Regions from separate parts of the Homo sapiens genome. Here region 2 is linked to region 1. The links come from fine-mapping of genetic effects on gene expression. Tissue or cell type: blood mononuclear cells. Region 1 holds a variant in brackets; the other region holds the start of a gene. Each region is shown on its reference strand, or each on the opposite one.

Region 1 (11,575 bases):
GTTTTAGCAAGAATTCTTCATTCCTTTTTTCCCTGTTCCATGAGTCCAGTTTTTAAATCCTGCCAAGTCAATTTAGAGAGAATCCTCCACTCTTCATACCTGGTCACCCTGACCTGTTATCAGTAAGAACCCTGTTAAGACTGTTTAGCCAGAATTCCCTACCTTTGATGTCTCCTCTTAGCAATTCTCCATTCATGACCCCCTCACTCTTCTCATAGGCTATAGACACCTTGTTGCTTTTGCTGTATTCAGAGTTGAACCCAATCTTGACCACCTATTACAATATTCAGGACATCGATTACAATAGCTCTGATAAAGTCTTCCTTATAGTTTTAACAAGTGTCAGAATAAGTTTTTCTTTAACACCCTACAGTATTATAACTACAAGTCTAATCTTATATCAATTTGAAGTTAGAATTCATATTACTTATGTGATATGAACAAATTCAAGTATTTAACTTTAAGTGATCTTAAATTGTTAATGCACTCAGATAACTTCCAGAAATGAAGAGAAATCCTCTCAGGAAGAATCTACCTTAATCCCAGTCGTGGAAAACCATGGAGATAGAAGCTACGGAAAACCTCAAAAACCATAGCTCTCAGGGAGGAGCACCTTTGATGCCATCGGGTGTAGCTGCATTTTCAAAAGGATGGGGCAAATGCCATTGCTTTTTATATCTTTCAGTCCTTGCTCCAGTAGAGCGAGAATGTGTGCTCCATCATAGAAATGCATTACAGAGTTTGACAAGAGTAATTTCATGAGACAGCCCACCAAAAAATGAAGCCACAGGAAGCCAAAGTACTGGGGAGACTGTGGAGAGAAAGGAGCTCAGAAAAGTGACCCAAGAAAGTCCTTTAGGAATGATAGGACTTTCATGTAACCTGCATATGCATAGATCTGACCCCAAACAGCACATCAAAGATCTATGAGCACTGAACTAACAGATAGTCTAGGTCCCAGACTGAACACTGTGGAGTGCATACCCAGGAGAGAGCAAACAGCACAACAAAGGTTTGGAACACTGAACTAACACTGGAACCACAGTCTATAGGGGGTGGGTTAGAACTTGTGGGAGGCTGAGGAGGGTGGATCACTTGAGGTCAGGACTTCAAGACTAGCCTCACAAACATGGTGAAACCCTGTCTCTGCTAAAAATACAAAATGAGCCTGGCACGGTGGTGTACACCTGTAATCCCAGCTACTTGGGAGGCTGAGGCAGGAGAATCACTTGAACCCAGGAGGCAGAGGTTGCAGTGAACCGAGATCATGCCACTGCACTCTAGCCTGGGCAACAAGAGTGAAACTCCATCTCAAAAAAAGAAACAAACAAACAAAAACTTGTGGCCCAAACCTACTGAAACAAAATATTAACAATCTGCGTAGAATTTAAACAAGACTCCAAAGAATCTTGAAGTAATTCACAAAATGTCAAAAATGACTCAGCATAGAAAGAAGCACAAACATTTCAATTCACATGAGAAAAGACAATCAACAGACAGCAAAGCTGAGATGACAATAGATGTTGGAATTAGCTGACAAAGACTTTAAAGTAGCTATTATACAAATGTTTCCAGAAGCAATTGTGAACACTCTTGCAACAAAGGTTAAACAAAAAGCTTTAGCAAAGAAATCAAAGATATAAAGAACCAAACTGAAATTTTAGGATGGGAAAATACAATAAACACCTTCTTCTATCCTCCAATAAAAATCTCACTGAGTTCAACAGCAGGATGGAGATAACGGAGCACAGAGTCAGTGAACTTGAAGACGGATCAGGAGAAAAAACTCATTTAACCGAAACAAGACAAAGAAAACAACTTACAAAAGAACAAAATCTCAAGGACCAACAGGATGATACCTGAAGATCTAACCATGCCACTGGAGTTTCAGAAAGATAGGGTAATGATGAAAAAAATAAAAAATAATGACAGAAATCTTCCAAACTTTATTTTTTAGAAAATGTATAAAAGAAGTGAAGCAAATCCCAAATAGGATAAACTCAAAGAAATCTATGCACAGACATATCATAATAAAACTGCTGAAAACCGAAGACGAAGAAAAAGTGCTTAAAGCAGCCAAAGAAAAGTGACACATTAACTATAGGGGAAGAATGATTTAGAAACTTCAATACTTCTCATCAGAAATCATGGCAGACAAGAAGAAATGCTGAAAGAAAAAACTGTCAATTCCTAATTAAGAAAATGTTTTATTATGTTTAATCCAGAATTTTATATCTAAATGAAATATCCTTCAGTAGTGAAATTCTCACTACTGAAGGATATTTCATTTAGATAGGATATTTCATTTAGATATAAAATTAAAAATGTCCTCAGATGAAAGAAAACTGAAAGAACTTGTATCTATCAGTCATGCTTTAAAAGAATTTCTAAAGGAAGGTTTTTAGATAGAAGGGAAATTGTTTCTGAAACAAAACACTTGAAACTCCAGGAATTAAGGGAGAAGAAAAGAAAGAGCAACATTTCAATGAAAAGTTGTCATAGTTCATTTGGGCTTCTCTAAAGAAATACGATAAACCAGGGTAGGTTATAAACAACAGAAATTTATCTCTCAGAGTTCTCAAGACTGGGAAGTCCAAGATCAAGGGGTAGCAGATTTAGTGTCTGCTAAGAGCTTGTTTCCTGGCTCATAGATGGCACCTTCTTAGTGTATCCTCACATGATGGAAGTGGCAAACAACCTCCCTTAAGCCTTTTTTTAAAATAAGAGTACACTAATCTCATTCATAAGGGCTCTACCTTTGTGATCTAATCAAATCCCAAAGATCCTACCTCTTAAAACCATCACCTTGGGGGTTAGGATTTTAACATGTGAACTTTGAGGGGAAACAAATATTCAGACCAAAGCAAATGTAATAAGTTAGTCTTCTTATCTTGAATTCTTTTACCCAAAAGAAGACTTAAAATAGGAAACAGAGTAATATAAAATAAGGGGAATAAGTACAAAACCAGAAAATAAAATGATAGTCCTAAATCTAAACCCATCAATAATTAATTTAAACATAAATGGTCTGGACACACCAATTAAAAGACAGAGATGGTTGGAGTGATTTTAAAAATTACTTATATGCTGCAAAGAGAGCCACTTAAAATATAGTTACACAGATAGGTTAAAAGTAAAATGATGAAAAATAATATACCACATATATTAGTCCTTTTCACACTGTTAATAAAGATGAGCCCAAGACTAGGCAATTTACAAAAGAAAGAGGTCTAATAGACTTACAGTCCCACATGGGTGGGGAGGCCTCACAATCATGGCAGAAGGCAAGGAGGAGCAAGTCACATCTTATGTGGATAGCAGCAGGCAAAGAGAGAGCTTGTTCGAAGAAACTTACCCTTATAAAACCATCAGATCTTGTGAGACTTATTCACCATCATTAGAACAGCACGGGAAAGACCTGCCCCATGATTCAATTACTTCCTACTGGGTCCCTCCTACAACATGTGGGAATTCAAGATGAGATTTGGGTGGGGACACAGCCAAACCATATCACTACACAAACACTAATCAAACAAAAACTGGAATGACTATGTTAATATCACAAAGCAGACTCAGAGCAAAGATTACCAGGAATAAAGATGGACATTACATAATAAAAAGGCTTAATTTACCAAGAAGACATAAGAATTATCAATTTATATGAGCTAAGCCACAGATCTTCAAAACACACAAAGCAAAAACCTACAGCATTGAAAGAAAAAATAGACATATCAGCAAATATAGTTGGACAGTCAACATTTCTTTCTTAGTAACAGAAAGGACTAGTTAACAGAGTTAGCAAGGATATAGAAGAACAAAACAATGCCATCAACCAACTTTATCTACTTGATTTTTATAGAATTCTATCCAAAGATAGCAAAATACACATTATTTTGAGGGACACATGGAATATTCATCAAGATAGATGATATTCTGGCTCATAGTCACACATTAACAAACATAATTGAAATCACACAAAGTATGTTCTCTGACCATAATGGAATTATACTAGAAATAAATAACAAAAGAAAAAAACAAAACCTTCAAATATTTGAAAATTAAAGCTCATGATTCAAAATAATATGAGTCAAAGAAAATGTTTCAAGAGAAATTAGAACACATTTTGAATGAAAATGCAACATAACAAATTAAGTCAAATTTAGTTAAAGCAATGCACAAAGGGAAGATGTGTAACAGTAAATACATACATTATAAAAGGAGGAAAGTCTCTGTAATCTCAATTTCCGGTATAAGAAACTATAAAAACAATAGTAAAATAAGAAGCAGAAGAAAATACAGTTATGTGTCACAACAGTATTTTGGTCAATGATGGACTGCATGTACGACAGTAGTCCCAAAAGATTATAATGGAGCAGGAAAATTCCTATCACCTAGTTGACATTGTAGGTCCCAGTGCATTGCATGAACTTTGCTATATCTGTGTATCTAAACATAGATACACAAGTGCCATTCTGTTGTGGTTGCCTGCAGTATTCAGTAGAGCAACATACTGTATAGGTTTGTAGCCTAGCAGCAATAGGCATACCATATAGCCTAGTGCTATATCAGATGTGCAGGAGGTCATACCATCTAGGTTTGTGTAAATACACTCTGATGTTTGTACAACAAAATTGCCTAACAATGCATTTCTCAGAGCATATCCCTGTCGTTAAGCAATGCATCTTGTAATACATATAAGAACAGAAATTGTTAAAATTGAAAACAGAAAACAATAAACAAATTTTTCTTTTTCTTTTCTTTTCTTTTTTTTTTTTTTTTTTTTTTGAGACGGAGTCTCTCTCTGTCCCCCAGGCTGGAGAGCAGTGGCCAGGCCTCAACTCACTGCAAGCTCCGCCTCCAGGGTTCACGCCATTCTCCTGCCTCAGCTTCCTGAGTAGCTGGGACTACAGGCGGCGCCACCACGCCTGGCTAATTTTTTGTATTTTTAGTAGAGACGGGGTTTCACCGTGTTAGCCAGGATGGTCTCGATCTCCTGACCTCGTGATCTGTCCACCTCCGCCTCCCAAAGTGCTGGGATTACAGGCGTGAGCCACCGCGCCTGGCCAATGAACAAATTTTTTAAATTGTGCTTTAAAAAAAAAAAAAGCAAGACCAATAAACTTAATAAATATCTACAATGATTAACAAAGAAAAAAATAGAGGATGTAAATTACCAATACTAGGAAAGAGAGAGAGGATTTCGTTACAAAATCCAAAGATATCAAAAGAATAATAACAGAGAATTTCAAGATAAATAGGCAACTCAACTAGTCCTCTGTCTATTAAAGAAGCTGATTTTATACTTAAAAGTTCCTAAAAAAGAAGTATCCAGAACAAAAAAGCAAGACAAAGACTAA[C/G]ATGTTTAACAATTCAAAAGAAACACAAAATTCTCAATACAGTGGTCTCCCCCTTATCCTCAGGGGATATGTTCCAAGATCCCTAGTGGACGACTGAAACTGAGGATGCTACTAAACCGTGTGTGTGTGTGTGTGTGTGTGTGTGTGTACACACTATGTTTCCCTCCCATAAATACATACCTATGATAAAGTTTAATTTACAAAGTAGGCAGGGTAATATATTCACAACAATAACTAATAATAAAATAGAATAATTAAATGTTATGCTGTAATACAAGTTAGGTGAATGTGGTCTCTTTCTCTCTCTCAAAATATCTCATTGTACTCTACTCACTTACATTCAAACTATGGAATATGAGAAGATGCCTAACTTCACTAGCAATAAAAAAGCAAGTTAGAACCACAAGAGTTACCATGTCTTACCCAATCTTTAGGTGAAAAACTAAATCTGACACTGTCATGTTGGCATATATGTGGAGCAACAGGAACTTATGAATATTGGTGGTATGATGTATAAATTGGCCCAAACATTTAAAAAATAGATCAACATTTCATAGGAAGTTTGAATATGCTCATAATATATGATCTAAGGATTTCACTCCTGGAATAAATGTATAAAAATTAATAACATATTACAGGAAATAACCAAAATGTCCGACAATGGTAGAATGGAAAATACATTGTAGACTGGTTTTAAGGTGGAACACTGTTCAGCAGGGAAACTGAATGAGAGACAGTTACATGTGAGCTTTGCCCAGTGAATCTACCCAAACCTCATATTGAATGAAATAAGTAAGACATAGACATTATAGTGTAGGAATTCATATTCATAAGGTTCAAAAATAGGAGAAATATATCCATAAGTGGTAAAATCATTTAAAGCCGAAAGAACGTGGGATGATTATTATAAAAGTCAAAATGACGAAAACCTCTGTTTGTAGGATGGGAAGGTGATATAATTGGGAAGATGTATAGAGGATTTGGAAAAAACTGGCCAGTCTCTATTTCTTAACCTCAGCAGTGGACACATAGGTGCATCATTTACTAAAATTATTTAAGTCAATATATGCATTTATATATTGTTTTGTATGAATGATATTTTCTAATAAATGGAAAATTGCAAAGTGAAATAAACCACTTTTTATGAAATACCGAAACTGAATTACTGTGCTTGTCCAAAAAGCTGCATCCTGATGTGGGATATTTGGTTATAATTTTTCTCATTCTAACACATTCCAGTTTTGAACTCTTGACTCTTTGAAATGCCAAATGTAATTATAATGCGGTATTTTGTTTAAGCATGTGCAATTAAAAGGGCACCATTGAATTGTGGTAGTGTGTAATGTTTCCCAGCTGCTAAAGGTAGAGGACATAATTTTATGATGTGTATTTGCTCCTACCAAAGACTCTCTATTTTATAGATTTATATGATATTAGAAAGCTCTCCTTCATTCCACTACTCTCTATCTGGGTTTATAGGTTAGAAGTGAATTATAGTTTGGTACAGGAGTCAAAAGCCTGCCTTGAGAGTGCTGGCCCTTCATTTCAGGAAAACTACTCAGGGATAAAATGGCCAGTTTTTGAAGCCAGAATTGTCAGGGCATTATTGCTTATTTTATGCAGTTTTAAATATGCCAAGGACATATTTGGAGCTATGCTGAGAAGAAAGGGATCCCTGTCCAGTTAATTAAAACATGACTTTTAGCAAGTTGCAAGTAGAGAAGGTTCATAGGAACAAATTATAAATCTGCTTATTTATCTTCTACCACATTGTCTTTTACAGAATACTCTTTAACCCACTGTATTTCACATCTCAGCAGTTTCTTCTTCCCCATGATTCCTAAGACTTTTTTCTATCTTTGAAAACTAGAATGTAGCTCTTAGTTTTCCTTCCTGGATAGTTAATTCATACAAGATTCTGTGTGGATTACAGAATCAGACCCAGTTTTTAGAAGACTTGCTTCCTTGCTATCATACATCTTGTGTTATATAGTTTTCCTTGCTAGGTCATGTCTACATATAAATAGGCACATTTATCTGGAGATTTAAATTAATTACTATTTTTCATAAAATGGTATAAAATGAACTTTGACACTGGCTAGGGCTACTGAATTCTAGCCCTTTTCTATGTAAGTCATGAATATATTTGAAGACTACTGTATTTTTGCAGTGAAAATATAAGTAGCAGTGTTTTCACCATGTAATACAATAGTTACAGTGTTCCCTGAAAAGTCATGCTCTGTGCACTTAATTCAACTTGGCAGAAAACACCATTCCTTCTGTAGAAGATACTACTACTATGCACAGAAATTTATACAAGAAAGTATGTTTGCGGGCCTCTTGGAGCTAAAGTTTAAAACTTGCAACCTCAACTGGATCAAGTTTTCTGTGAATATTCTGTGGGAACGAAAAATATTTAGAGCAGAACTTTAACAATTCCTAAACAGACATCCATATACATGTGAACGTATGTGTGTGTATTTATTGATTTATTTTTATTTCATCCAAATAATTCACCTTGAACAACCAATTGAGATGAAATCAATCCATCAGATTTGAGAGATAACTAGCTTTCATCTTATACAGGCAATATATGGAGATAGGTCCCCAAATACCTAAATATTAAAATTTCCAAATCTTATTATTTTAGTGGTACTCAGCCATAATAAATCAAAGCAAGTGATTCTCTTATTACATTTTTGTTTGTTTTAATTATATTGAAATATTGTATATGCACATATACATATGCAAAGACCATTGATGTATAGCTTAACAGATCTTAACAAAACAAAAAAAACCCAGGACCCATATCCAGAGACAGAATAATACTGTATCTTAGAAGTCTCCCTCATATCCTCTTCCAGTCACACTCTGTCTCCACAAAAAAAGCTGCTGTCTGACTTTTATTACCACATTAATTTTTCCTGCCTTTGAACTTTATGTAAATAAAATCATAACATGTACTTGTTTGTGTCTTTCTTTCCTACTCAAGAATATGAGATTCATTTATGCTGTTTTATATATTTGTATTTTGCTCATTCACATTACTGTTTTGTATAAAATAATTATTTTGAGGTATAATCTATTATTAAAATACTAATTAGGCTGGGCATGGTGGCTCGCTCCTGTAATCCCAGCACTTTGGGAAATGGAGGCTGCTGATCACTTGAGGTCAGGGGTTTGAGACTAGCCTGGCCAACGTGGTGAAACCCCGTCTCTACTAAAAATAAAAAAGTTAGCCAGGCATGGTGGCACACACCTGTAATCCCAGCCACTCGGGAGGCTGAGGCAGAAGAATCGCTTGAAACCCAGGAGGCAGAGGTTGCAGTGAGCCGGGATCGTGCACTGCACTCCAGCCTGGACGACAGAGTGAGACTGTCTCAAAAAATATAAAATAAAATACCAATTTGAGGGAGACTGGTTCAAACCCAGTGGTAACAGGACATAAAAGGGATCAAAGGAGCTACAGGAAAGCTAATAGCTTCTTTTTCTAACTCCTCCATCCTGTATAGAAAAGATTTGTTTATTCCTTATTTTATATAAGTACAACTTGCTAACCGATTGTGCAACTGGAGCTCCTTATTTCTTATTTCAATTAGCGAAACCCTATTATCAGGCTATTGGCATTTACCTTATTCTAATTTAGCAGACCTTGGCGATTGGCTGACATAAAAGCCATTAACAACACCTTTGCCCCTTTCCACTTTCCTCTATAAAAGCTGAAAGGGCCAAATATATTATTTTCAATCATGTTACTACTAAAAGTGACCATGTGATACAGTCTTGACCAGTTAAATTTAAGAGGGAGTTTCTGGGGATTTCTGGAAAAACCTTTGCTTTTTTTACTAAAGATAGTAGCGTAAGAGGAGAGAAGCTTAATGACATTCTTTACCTCATCTTCCTGCCTTGCTGCTGGATATGATTCCTGGAACTTCAGCAGCCCTTTTGGGACCATGAAGCAATGAGCATGGAAGTGAAAAGGTAACACATCAAAGTGATCAAGTCCAAAGGTTATGGTAATCAAAGACTTTGATTATACTATTGTGATACTGAACACATTTTTAGACTTATTGTTAAGCAAAATAGAAATTTCCTTATAATTTAACCCCATTGTTAGAGCTTTCCTTAATTGCAGCCAAAAGTGTATCCGATATACCATTTATCTGGATATTTAAGATAGAGGCATGCACCTTAAAAATTGCATGAAATTATGCTGTATTTTATATTAGCTTCTTGAAAATCAACAACATCTTGATTAGAAGAGTAAAACTGAACTGTGCCTATCACACAGATGAATTCTGATGACTTATGAAACACCTGAAATGCTTTCAGTTGCTTGATTTCTTCAAAACAACACTCTTTATTTCTTGATATTGTAGACTTAACATGAGAAAACAATCAAATACTTTATATTTAAGCCCCTCCTGGTATACTTGGGAATTCTGGTGGTAGGTGCTAGCTAAGCACCTACCAGAAATCCCTTGAAGTCAATAGACTTCAAACATGATTATTATCTCAGCAGTCACAGAAAATATCCTTTTACATCTTCCTTCAAAGAGGCAGACTACTGTCATTATAGTTCTTAAATGTTTATTGTCTCATTAAATTACCAATTTCCCATAGACTTTTGGTCTGCAGTTTCGGAGTTAGGATTCTGGGAGAGAATGGTGGAGATAGTAATACAAGAGTAGTCCTTTGGCTCTTCGTGTTGAAAACTGATTACCTCTTAATTTGCAGGTAATTATCCTTATTTGTACCAAACATTCCTCTATCTCTCACTTGCTGATTTTCTGTGGCTGCATCTAGGTCAGCATAAATGACTTTAGGCTAAGTTTCTTTTGATTTAAAACAAATCTAATATCTTAAAGTTAGATAGCTGTTATCCAGTGGGTATTGCATGAGCATTGGCAACCTGTCATATAACACAACATCTTATTAACAACTTGTATTTCCTATACTTTTGTGTGTGGAGACCATATGCTATGTTGAATTGGTTTAAACAATGTAGTCAGAAAGGCTGCCCTGAAATTTTATTTTTGGTAATACATTAGTAGAGAAGTTGAGGGATTACGAGAAAGTTTATGTTAAAATTCTTGTTATGCTTCTTTGGAGAAGGACTATTTTTATATAATTAAGAGGCCAATTATTGAATGTTTCTATTCTTTTTGTACGCTATAGCAAGAAAATTAGGGAGTTAGGGTTTAAAGAACAAATGTATGGCATTTGTGAAGTTGAAAACAACCTCTGGATACTCAAATCTCCCGCTTTTGATCAGTCTCAACTCTTTAATGGACCTTATTCACTTAAGCTATAAATCACATTGTGGCATGAAAATAATGACAAGCATTTCAGAAAAGCCAGAAATGTGTAATTATGAGTATTTATTCTTTTTAAAGCACTAATTGTAAGCAGAGGGAAAGCACCAAGGAGCCCCAATCTAATATTTTTAATGTACATTTTTCATATCATATTAAAATTTTAGTGTTTTAATAAATGTAGGAAGATGAATGGGAAAAATGAAATTGCTTATGGAAATAAATGTACACAAATATGTACATTTTCTAAATGATGATTAATAATATAGTTAAAGCCCATGGACATGCAGTATTATTTATCAGACTACATCCAAGCAGGGTGGAAGCAAAAAACACTTATGCAGCATGTAAGCCAGCCTCTGACCAGCTTTGGCACCTAAACAGGAGTCATATTTTTGTAGGCATGAATGTGTTTTGAACAATGAATCAAATGTCTTCTGCACAGATAGGGTTTTATTTAACACCAGAACCATGTCTTTTTCTACTTACATTTCCTGGAAAATAAGTACAAATTTTGTAACCAGTCTATGAATAATTAAGTACCTTCTCATGAATGACAGACTTCAGAAGGTTCAGAATTTCAACCTGGGTAAACAAGTATATATTTGTATGTCTGTCTAGGTTTATGTGTACCTAAACTCCATTCCATAAACCATCTCACAAAAATGTTTCTGAAGCCCTCTCCTGCCTCCCACTTCCCACATTTCATGAAAAGATATGTGTGTGGAGGATGGTGGCTCTTCATAGGATTCTATTTAAGTGTTTCTGTCTTGAGACCAGTCACAAGGCTACTTTAGAAAGTAGAGCATTTTCTCAAGATGTTCCCCACATCAGTAACATTCTGTTTGAAGAAGAAAGTGCTTTTAGTTTATCGGAGAGATTATAGATACTTTTTACCAGTGA
Region 2 (11,575 bases), not on the chromosome of region 1:
GCTATTGTAGGAGGAGGAGGGAGGCCACCCTGTGGGTCACTAACAGGGTCCCTAGAGGGAAAGGTGACAGATGAAGTCCACCCTCTGAGCAAGGGAGGCTCCCTGGTCTAGTCACCAAACACCACAGCCCAGCTGGGGGTTGACTGCTTCATCCACAGATGGGGAAACTGAGGACAGGTGCTCAGGAGTCCTGCCTGGCTGAGGGCTATTGTCCCCACTGCACTGGCCTGGACCTAGCCACCATGGAAGAAGCCAGGGTGCAGAGTGGGAGGACCAATCCCCCAGACATATAAGGTGGCTGGCACTAGGGGCCACCCCAGGGCCTTATAGAGGGCATCCCTGGGTGACAGCTGCTTCTACCGGTTCTCAACCCCTCAGTTCCCGGGAAATTGGGGGTGACTGGTCTAACCAGGTTCAGGAAAGAACACCTTCTCTGGAGTGAGTCAGCCAATCCTGTTGCCTCCCCCACACCTCCACCATGTAGAGCCACCTGCTACATACAGATCCTCCGTGGCTCAAGGGAGAGAGGACTGGCCCAGGGTTCCCCTGGAAGATAGTGGCAGAGATAAGCCTCCAGTGTGGGTCTGATAACCAGACGGGAGCCAGTAAAGGCGGGGTGATTTCCTCTGTCCCCACCCCCCAAATCATTCAGGGGTAGGGCCAAAGAACCCTCTATCATCTCCCTTTTTAGCGCCCCCCCGTCATTCCTTTCTGCTTAGCGGGAAGGCCAGGTGGCAAGGGTGGGGATGGGATGGAGATAGTTTTCAGCAGGGAGTGTGGGCTGGCCCAACTCAGCCATGAGCCAGCTTGTCCTAGTCTGAAGAGAGCAGGGAGAGTCTTGGGGGAAGAGCCCTCCAGGCTCCACATTCCTGAGGAATTATGAGAAGACCCCCTGAAACTCAGGCCAGAGCCCTTAGTTGGTTCCAGCCCTAGTCCAATCCTGGCTGGGTGATCAAGAGCATATCCCTTAAACTCTCTGTGTCTTGGTTTTTTCATTTGCCAGTGGGTGGGGTTGGGAACAGTGACTTGGCCTCTCCTGTACATAGCTGCAGTTGCAATAAGCATCACCCCCATACTTGGTTCTAGCCAGTCAGGAGGAGGGAGAGAGACAAGGGGGCAAATGGGAAGGGCAGGATACCCCGAGGCATCAGTAACATTTATGGAGAGCCTGTGAGTCAAACCCTGTGCTGAGCCCCCTACTTGTCCTAAGCCCACAAAAACCCTAGATACTACTGTTATTCCCATTTGACAGATGAGGAGATTGAAGTCCAGGGAGGACATGTGATTTGCTCATGGTCAAATGACCTGAGCCAGGATTTGAACCCAGGTCTCTCTGACTCCAGGGCCTGCCCTAGGCTGAAGATAGCTCTGCTACTGGGGTCTGTGTGTCATGGTGGGGACCTCAGGGATCCTGGCACTGTGTTGGAGACCCCTCTAGCCTGGACTAGAGATGCTCTGAGGCCTAAGGAGGCCTTATAGCAGAGGCGGGGGGAATGAGGCTCACTCCCCAGCCCCCGGTGCTGGCTGTGTCTCAGGCCTAGAGCCTTCTGTGGTACATTTGGAGGCTGGGGGCTGGAGGGGACAGAGGGTCCAGCCCCTTCTGTACAGAGGGTAAAGAGGCCCAGAGGGGCAAGGGCTAGCCTTTTGTCTCCTAGGTCCCCATTCTCAGTGCTCTGGGCTCGGAGATGGGGTCCTTGTCTCTGACAAAAGCCTGATGTAGGAACTTGGCCACCTCTACAGCACAACCCCCGGAGCTTCAGTGTCCCCATCTGGAAAATGGGAGCCTCCCTCTGATCCCCCAAAGTGGGTGGGCAAGGCTGGAGACTGACAACCTCATTCCACTGGTCACCCTCTGGCACGACCCTTCCCTTTGGGCCTGGAGGCAAAGGTTGGACCACAGTGTCTCCTCTGTGTGTCCCGAGTTCCACCCGCCCAGGCCCCACCGCTGTGTAAGGAGGGAGCTGTGGGAGGGAGGGAAGGAAGTACAAAGCGCCATTGTCTACCGAGGGGGAAGGGGAAGGGGATGGGGCGGTTTCCGAAACTGCCCAGTGAAATTCTCCCGGGAGGAAAGAGGGTGCTTCCTCCCCCTGGGGAGCCGGCTCTCCGTGTACTCTCTGCCCTCGCTGTTGGGAACGCCTGGCAGGCCCTGAGGTCTCACTGGGCCTCAGTCTCCCCAACAGCACAACGGAGGGGGCTCTCCAGGCTTTCAGTCCCAGCTCCCCCGGTTGCCCATGGGGGTCCCGCCGGCGGTGGAGGGAAGCCTCGCCAGGGGGCGCTGAAGGCCCGCAGGTTCTGCGACCGCCCTCCCTCGCAGGGCGCCGCCCTCGCCTCGCCCACCCTGCCTCGCGCTAGGCGCCGAAGGGGTAGCCAGGTAGGAAGACACCCGCTACCGCCTGCTTCAGTGTCCGGATCTAAAGGGAAGAAACCAAGGTCCCCAGGACACCCAGCTGAGTGGCGGAGGTCGAACTCGAACTCGGGACCGAGGCAGAGGGCGTCCCGGCGGGTGGTGGAGGGGCACGCGGCGTGCAAGTCCCCAGGCGTCCCCATTCCTCCCATCCCCGGCCCAATCCTCAAGAATGTGCGGGAGCCGGGGCCGGAAGCGACTGCCCGCGTCCCCAAATCGGCCAGACGCTGGGGCGCAGGGCGGGCGGAGCGGGCCTAGCTTTTCCTTATATGGCCCGGCCCCGCGGGGAGGAGCCCGGCTCGGGACGCCCCCGTTCTTGCCACGAGGCCAGCGGGGGCCGGGCCGGCGCGCGGGGCGCAGTAATGGCGGGCGCCGGGTGCTGGAGGAGCCGCTCCCGGGGTCGGAAAGACTTCGAGAGGCACCGATCCCGAGACCGGGGCAGGTTCTCATCTGTCCTTTCCCAGAGATTCAACCACTGCTCCAGCTTCTCTCCAAAACTCTTTTCCAGCGCCGCCCGAGCCTCGCTTAAGAGAGGGAGGTGGCGGCTGAAGAACCCTGAGCCTGCCTGTGGATACCTTGAGATGAGGATGTGCGGGAACCAGGCCTGGCATTCCCTCTTTTTGGACTGTGCTGCCTCTACGACCCCCACTGGGACTTGGACTTCCTGAGGGAAGGTCGAACTGACTGGCGGGCACCTTTGGAAACCTAACCTCATCCCCTCCAGGCTGCACACATCCTGCGGTGATAGTGGAGAGGCAGACACCCAGAGAGTCTAATGCGCTGGTCCGAGAACATACAGGCAGAGTGCCTTGGGGAGGTCATGGCAGCAGCTGGGCACTGCCCAGTGGCTGGGCTACGCTGGTTGGTTCCAGCCTCTGCCTGCGGGGGAAGGTATGAGAGTGGGGTGGGTCACTTGTCTTCTAGGTAAAGTAAATCTTTAATTTACCCCCATGGACAAGGGTCAGGGACTGAGGAGATGGAGCTCCTCTGGCCCCTCCTCCAGGTCAGGCTGCCTGGCCTTTGGGGTTGGGGAAGGAGCCCTGCCCCACTGGGTTGCCCTACGGCCTCTGTGCATGGAGGTAGACAGGGCTCTCAGGAAGAGGAACAAGAAAGGGGATGGAGTGGGCTCATCTTTCCTCCACCTGAGATCTGGGTCCATGCCTCATTCTGTCCCCATGCCAACTCTAGGACCTAGAGCTTGTGTGCAAACACATCTCCCTCCCTCCCTTCATTTTACAGGTAGAGGAACTGAGACTCAAGAGTAGAAAAATGAGATGAGAAGCCACAGAATCCATAAGGGCCCACAAAACCTGTCTCTCTCTTATGGCCTCGTCCAGCCTTGACTTTCCCAGGACTCTGGTCCCCCGTGGCCCACTATGGGGTTGGGATTTTGGCACAGCTCCTTCTTAGATGGGTGTCCTTGAGCAGGTGATTTTAACTCTCTTGAGTCGCAGTGCCCAGGCTTTCAGAGCTGCTGTGATTATTCTGTGACATGGTATACCCAGTACCCAGCCTGCCCCCTGCCAGGCCTTGGCATTATTAATCATTGCTGCTACCATTATCACTGGGCCAGCTTCCAGGGGTGGGCATTGCCCGAGCTATTGCTCTGGAGAGGCATATCCAGCCTCCCCACACCTGTGGCTGCATACGGGCGAGTCTACAGCAGTTACTGTTTAAACAGGTGGTGGCTGTGGAGGGTTGGGAGGGACTAGGCTTCAGTACCAGGCATGGACAGGCACATGCCACAAGGGCCTCTGCATCAGCCACATGGAACTGGCCTACCCCTGTTCCCATGTCCCCCTCCTCCTGACCTTTCCCCCATCACTTCTTCCTGTCAGCTGAGAGGTACCCTGGATTGACCCTGCCTCTCTGGCTTGGCTTTCCTGTCCCCACAGTGGGTGATGGGGCCACTTACCAGCTTCCGAAGGGCTCCCTCATCCAGCCCAGCTAAGGCCTCGTCCGCCATCTCGCTGGCCCCTAGCTCCGTCGGTTCCTTTCTGGTGAGATCCCCAGTGCCTGTGGCACCTGTCACCAGCTCAGAGAATTCTGCAGGGGACAGACATGAATCAGGCATGCTGGGGCTTCCAGAAACCACAGGCACTTAGGCTCTGTGCCTTACTTTCCCTCTCTAACCTAGGAGCGTCCATTACTGTCCCATCCTATAATGTGGCTCCTGGCTGGAAGCTGCCCTCTGCCCTAGGGTGGTTTGCTGGAAAACTCACCAAACCCAGGGTAGGGGGTCTCTGGTTCCAGCCCTGCCAGCTTGGCCGCCAGTCTGCTGTGTGGCCTGGGATGGACTCTCATCCTGTCTAAACCTCAAAACAGGGAGGGCAGGGACCTGGATTGAGAAGCCAGGGCCTGGCAAGACCCACCCAAGCTGTGCTTACCACCAGGGGGTGCACTCCAGTCTCCAGTTTCCTGCCCCACCCACCCATCCACAGGGCCTACCCAGCCCCCACCCACTCCGCAGGCTCAGCTTCTGGCTGTGGGCTGAACCCGTAGTTCTTGCTGCCACCACCACTGTCATTCCCCCAGGTATAGGAAGGTACACTGTGTCTTCCGATTCTTGGAGCCAGCTCTGCTGTCCAGACCTCCTGAAGCCAGGTGTCCAGGCACCCAGCACCTCCTGCCAATTCATACAGAATTCAATTCCCCACCTGGAAGGGCTTTCAGAAGCTGACCTGCCCAACCCCTGGATTTCAGGCAAACTGAGAAGATTGGAGAGGGCCAAGGATTTGTCACTGAGCAAGGAGGAAGCCAAAGACTTAGAGGGCAGAGAAGGATGTAATCAAAATCTTCGTCATCTCCGGCTTCCGAAGCTCCCTTCCAAAGTGCCCTCAAGGGCCTGGAACACTCTCAGTGACAGAGGCAAGAGCCCCATCTTGCCCCAGTGCTGCCCATCAAAATGGACCCCTAAATCCTGGCCCAGCCTCCCAGCGCAGATCTCTCCTTCCTCCTGTAGCCCCAACTAATGTCTGTCTGGAATTTGAGGGGCCCTGGTCTGGCACACTGTGGATGCTTAGTTAATGTATGGTGACTGACTAATGTGTGGCCCCAGGCCTGCCCCCCACCTCCTGTTGATTCATCTTTCAATCATCCCTTCCCTCTCTTCAGAACAGTCACTTGGGAAGTCACCCCATACGGTGCATGGGTGGGGGGTGAGGGTTACCGCTCCACACAGTTGGGGTGTGTGGGTCCCAGCCTGTTCAAGTCACTGCTTGTTCCCCCTCCCATCCTGGTAGGCTCAGAGGTGTCAACCTCCCAATCTCTGCCTGTTAGGATCCTTGCCTCTTACCTAGTTACTCTGTCTGGGTTAAACCTCTTCAAGACTGTCCAGTGGTCACCAGCCTTAGGTTCTGCGGACATTCTGATTCCCCCCATGTCTGTTCTTCTATGGGGCAGCTGACCCTAATGCCTAATCTAGGACACCCATGGGATTATAAGAAGATCCCTGCCGCTGCTCTTCTCCAATCTCCCTGTCACACAGTCTGGGGTCGCCGGACATTGTGAGGGGCCTCAGGATTCTGTGGCAGCTTCCCCAGGGTTTCTGCCGCCACAGACTAGCGCCCCTGTGGGGCGTGGAGTCTCTTAGGAATCCGGGGGCGTCTTCCCCCAACAGTCTCATAACTTTATCCCATGGCTTAGACCTCTCGTATGGGTGGGGGCTCCCAGGTCTGGACGTTCCAGAACTCCTGTCTAGACATCCGGGTTCCACCCCCGGACACGTTGGGGCAGCACCAGGATCCCCCCCGAGGTCCGCACACCCACCTCTCAGTCCAGCCCACCCGTCCGGCGCAGGCTCGGCTTAGCTCTTTCGGGACCCGACAGACGGATTAGACACGCGCAGGCCGGAGGTGCCGCGACCCGCTGTCCCAGGCCCGCTCAGCAACCGTCCCCTGGATTCTGCGGAGAGCTGCCCGTCCAGCCGCGCCAGCAGCCCGGCTGGCCCCGCCCTGCCCCGACGCGCCAGCCAACCCTCGATTGGGTACCTCCCACTCTCGTGCCCCATTGGGAAAATTCAATTTGACGGCCACGCCCCGAGAGGAAGGCCCCGCCCCTCGCGGGCCAGGGAGGTCGGAAATTGGGAGTCTTGGGGTCGTCTGCCTCGGTGGCTTTAGCGAGTCGGGTGGGCATCGGCAGGGGGACGCAGGCTCTGCGCCAAGTCGGGGGGGGCGCCCCGAGCCGAGGTAAGTTTCCTGGGGTCGTAGGAGTCTCAGAGCCTTCAGGACAGCCCCTCTCCGCCCTCCTCTTTGTTCCTGAGACCACGTCCCCTCCCTCGACTCCACCCCTTTCTCGCGTCAGTGTTTAAGCTTGGCCGCCGTCCCTAGGCTGCTTTCGGGACACCTGGTCTGAGCCACCTCAGAGCAGGGACTGAGTGACTGGCAGCACCTTGACCCTGTGTTGGAGTGCCGGGACCATCTCAGGTGGAGCAGAATCAATCACACAGCACGCCTCCCCCAGCCCACACACCTTTGAACAGACATTGCCTTCTTGTAGCATGCTTCTACCTTCCAAGCCCTGAGAGTCTGCCTTTAGGAGCGCTGGAGTCCTAAATAGGGAATATGGAGTCCAGGCTGTCATTCAGCAAAAGGGGGAAATTGAGGCCCAGAGAGAGCTGACATGTCCAAGACCAAACAAGGAATCAGCCAGGGTACCCAGGAGGTCAGATCCACAAGGCAAAGCTATTCCATCTTCAGTGCCAGAGGCCCTAAAGCCGCCCTTGGGTCTCCATGGAGACTAAAGTGGGTGGAGTTGGGAGGATGGGGTCTGGAGTCCTGTCAAATAAAAACAATAACAAATCATTTATTTTGTACTTGCCATGTACCAGGCATATAATGCCCATAACAAGCACATGAGACCATGACTATTGCCCCATTTTACAGATGAGGACAACAGCTGATAAGTAGTAAAGCTGTGATTCATACCCAGCACCTTCTGAGTCCAGACCCTGCTTTTAACCACTATAATGTGGGATTCTGGGGAGGTGGTTTCAGCCTGTTAACCCAGAAGAGCCCCGGTTCAGGTCCTCTGTGACACCCCCCAGCCCCCATCTAAGGAAAGGCCCAGTCTCCACACTGAGAGTCTTTTCCATGTGTCATTTCATTTCATCCCCACACCCCTGAGAAGTGGTCCCATTTTACACATCAGAAAACCAAGGCACGGGCCAGGTGCGGTGGCTCATGCCTGTAATCCCAGCACTTTGGGATGCCAAGGCAGGTGGATCACCCAAGGTCAGGAGTTCGAGACCAGCCTGGCCAACACGGCAAAAACCCCGTCTCTACTAAAAATACAAAAATTAGTCGGGCAAGTGGCATGCACCTGTAATCCCAGCTACTTGGGAGGCTGAGGCAGTAGAATCACTTGAACCTGGAGGCAGAGGTTGCAGTGAGCCGAGATTGTGCCACTGCACTCCAGCCTAAGCGACAGAGCAAGATTCTGTCTCAAAAAAAGAAAAAAGAAAATCAAGGCACAGAAGAAAGCGACTTGTCAATGCTACACAGCAGGAGAGGCAAACAGAGCTCACTTCGGAGGACATATTTCAAGGTCCTAGGCTTTCTCTACCTGGGCGAGATGCCATGTTATTATCCAGAACGAGGGTCAGGCGCCCTCTAAGACCAATTCTGAATACTTCAAAATTCACGCGTCCCTTGGGACCTCCCCTTCATGCAGGGCACACCTAGGCCACCTCTGATTTTCAGGGCCTGCCTGAATGGCGGTCACCAGCTCCAATGAATGGCCTGCTTTGTGCTAATGCCCTCCTTTCTCCCTGCCCTACTGTAGGCTAGGAGGAATGGTACAGGTGAGTTCCTCCATGCTTGGATTTACTGTCTGGCACATGCGCTCACTAGCCCTTGGCCCTATGGAAGGGATGTGTGGGTCCTGCCCCTTCAAGCCCTTAGTGCCTGGGTCCACCTCCAGACATACCCGCCTGCCTCTGTCTTCCTCTCTGCAAGGGAGTGGGGGTGATCTAGAGATCAAAGGGCAGTCCGGTACAGTGCTAGGGAAGTTTACAGCTACAGCCGAGGAAAGAGTAAACATCCCGTGACGAGGGCCCCAGCATTTGCTGAACACCTGTTGCATGTCAGACGTGGGGCTCCCACTACTGCCAGGTGACCACTGTGCAAGATAGGTACACTCTGATTCGACAGAGGAAGCTGAAGCTCAGGGAGGTGAAGGCACCTTGGCCTAGTAAAGGCATTCAGACTAAAGTGGAATTCTGCCTGATGCTGAAGCCCCTTCCCTCCACTTTGCTGCCACTAGGATGGGGGAAGCTCTGGAAGACTTCTTAGGGAAGTGGTGTATAAACTGTGTGTCACACTTGTTTTTATTTTATTTTATTTTTTTTGGAGACAGGGTCTTGCTGTGTCCCACAGGCTGGAGTGCAGTCGCATGATCACAGCTTACCATGGCCTCAAACTCCTGGCTCAAGCAATCCTTCCATCTCAGCCTCCCAAGAGGCTAGGACTACAGGCACACACCACCACGCCCAGCTAATTTTTAAAATTCATCCCACATAGAAGAGGGGGAAAGGCATGAAAGGGCATTTGTGGCAGAGGAACAGTGTGAGCAAAGACCAATAGTCTGGGAAAAGGAGGAGGATAGGCTGTGGGCGGAGCAGGAAATGTGGGTGGTTCTCTTTGCCAAGGATTCTGAATGCCAGATGAGCAGGATGAATGTATCTTGTGGGCACCAGAGAGGCCTGGGCCTCAGCCTGCCCCCTGTAAAATGAGGTGATTAGACTGGTCTGCTTCAAGCCTTCCTAGGGCAAGGGGCTGTCACAGAAAGGGTCTACTCTAGGTTCTTCCAGGTTCAACCCTGGAAAGGCAGAATGGGAAGTGGCTGGAGCAGCTCAGAGGCTAGGGGTAATATTTTGCTCCAGAGCTCAAGTCTGAGAATGACTATTTTACCAAGCTGTCTGTGTTGCATCCCTAAGTCACCCTGGCTAACCCTCCACCCAGTCAGGGTCCTTCAGAGAAAGCCCAGGCCTTGGGTCAGGAGGCAAGAAGGGTGATGGGTGTCTTACCCCTGGCTCCAACCCTAGGTAAGGGTTGGCCCTCTTGGAGCTTCAACTTGCTCATATGCACAATGGAGGAGCTGTGCCTTGGGCTCTCTAAGCCTCTCTCCCCAGGACAGCACTGTCATTCTGGAGACGGGAACAGCATTAGCAAAGGAACGGAAGTAGGATTGTGACGACCTTGTTGGGCAACAGACAGGCAGGTGAGGCTGGAGAATGGAGCCCCTAGAGGTGGATGGTTCTTGTTGGGGTTGGCTGGATCCAAGGGGTATGACCTTCCTCCTTATGTGCAGAACTGGATGCGTCCTAGGTCATGGCCAGCAGCCCTCGGAGTGGGACTGAGGACCTGCTGGGAAACCAGTTTGGCAAGGCCATCATCTCCAGGATGTCATCCAGCCGCTGTGTTCTCTGGGCAACAGTGCCAGGCAAACTTCTGGCCCTGCAGGAGGAGAAGGGGCCTCAGATGCCCACTGGGCAGCAGTGAATTCCAGGAGACCCAGCCTCACAGACAAAGGAGAGGCAAGGGGCTGGAACAGGAAGGAGAGAGTTCTGGATGTGCCAGCCTGGACCTCTTTAGACTTCTGGGAGTCCCTGATGCCTGGGCGCAGGGAGTGGGGGTCTAGGCTCATGGTGGGACACTATGTAATTGCTACCTGATGGGTTGGACACTGGCTCCTGATCATGCTTATACTACATGTGTGGCAATTTTGTTACCACTATGACCTTCACAGCTTGAGTCCTGTGAGGTAGGACCACCATTATACAGATAAGGAGACAGGCTCAGAACCCTCGTTCTTTTGTTGTTTTTTTTTTTGTTTTGTTTTGTTTTTGAGACAGAGTCTCACTCTGTCGCCCAGGCTGGAGTGGAGTGGCACAACCATGGCTCACTGCAGCCTTGACCTCCCAGGCTCACAGTGGGACTACAGACACGTGCCACCATGCCTGGCTAATTTTTTTATTTTTTGTAGAGACAAGGGTCTCCCTATGTTGCCGGGGCTAGTCTCGAACTCCTGGGTTCAAGAAATCCGCCTGCCTTGACCTTCCAAAGTGCTAGGATTACAGGCGTGAGCCACTGCGCCCGGCCAGAACATTTGTTCTTAATCACCATATTCTACCATCCACCATTTGGAAGCTCCACTTGGATGACGCCTGAGCACTGGGGAGACCTGGGCCTCAGTCTGCCCATCTGTAAAATGAGGGGGTTTGACTCGCCTCCTTCAGGCCCTCCTAGGGCAAAAAACTGTAACAAGAAGGGTCTAGATTCTTCCAGGTTCAGCTCTGGACTGGCAGAGTAGGGAGTATCTGGAGCAGCTCAGGGGCTGAGGGTATTTTGGCTCCAGAGTCCAGTCCGAGAATGAATATTTTACCAACCTGTCAGTGTGGGATCCCAGCAAACCCTTCTCTCTACTTCTGAACATAGCACCTGAATCTTGGCATCACAGAGTCCTAGATACCCACCTTATGGTTCAAATAGGTAACTGAGTCCCAGAGAGGACAAGGGACAGGCTTCAGGTAGTGTAGCAAATCAGGAGCAGAGCCATTCTGCATCCCAGATTCTCAACCTCTCAAAACTTTGTTTCCTCCTCAGGGCCTGGCACACTTAAGCATGAAATAACTGACACATATTGAGTGCCTATGGCATACCATGCACTCATGTAACCATCACCACAGCCCTATAAAGCAGATGCTAATGTTCTGTCCCTTTTATGGGCAAAGAAACTGAGGCTCAGAGAGGGGAAGTCATTTGTCCAAGTTGACACTGCATGTTGGTGGTAGCGAAGGGATTTGAACCCAGGTATATAGGCCCTTCCCCCTCAGCAGATCCAGTAAGCCTCACTGGAGGCATGAAGACCTGTAGACAGCGGGGTGGATGGCTCCTTTGCCGGTTCTGAAGGCACGCAGTGTCCAATTCAGAGTTTCCACGCAGGCCTGGCCTCTCTGGGGCAGGGAGAAAAGTGCTGAGGCTGCAGAAGGGCTCTGCATCTTCCCAGAGGAGGCGGCCACGGTGGGAGGGAGTGCTCTGCAACAACCTCAGAGCCAAGTGTAGACGTGGCGGCTGGACCAGCTGCAAGCAAGGGAAGGCAGGCAGGGTGGGGCCCAAACCCAAACCCAGCCTCCAAGCCGTGTTCCCAGCCTTCCGCCAGCCAGGCCCTGCC

The links. PIP is the estimated chance that this variant, and not a neighbour inherited with it, causes the effect. A credible set is the group of variants that fine-mapping cannot tell apart.
Region 2: SMTN starts here. The variant in region 1 is the best candidate, but not a certain one, in a credible set for the expression of SMTN in blood mononuclear cells (TOPMed, PIP 0.88).

What each region holds. Positions count from the first base shown.
Region 1 is chr3:151,936,711-151,948,285 of GRCh38, reverse strand. The region is part of intron 1 of LOC107986047 (a long non-coding RNA gene); the gene reads left to right. Among named protein-coding and RNA genes, the nearest start is that of AADACL2-AS1, 14 kb to the right of the region's middle. The variant C/G (reference allele first, on the strand shown) is at 5,358.
Region 2 is chr22:31,076,054-31,087,628 of GRCh38, reverse strand. It overlaps SMTN (smoothelin), which reads right to left and starts at 6,311. Exons shown (of 21, transcript NM_134269.3): 1 at 6,173-6,311; 2 at 4,320-4,450. The coding sequence starts at 4,370. RefSeq lists enhancers at 1,277-1,903, 3,122-3,191 and silencers at 2,222-2,411, 2,592-2,871, 6,270-6,429.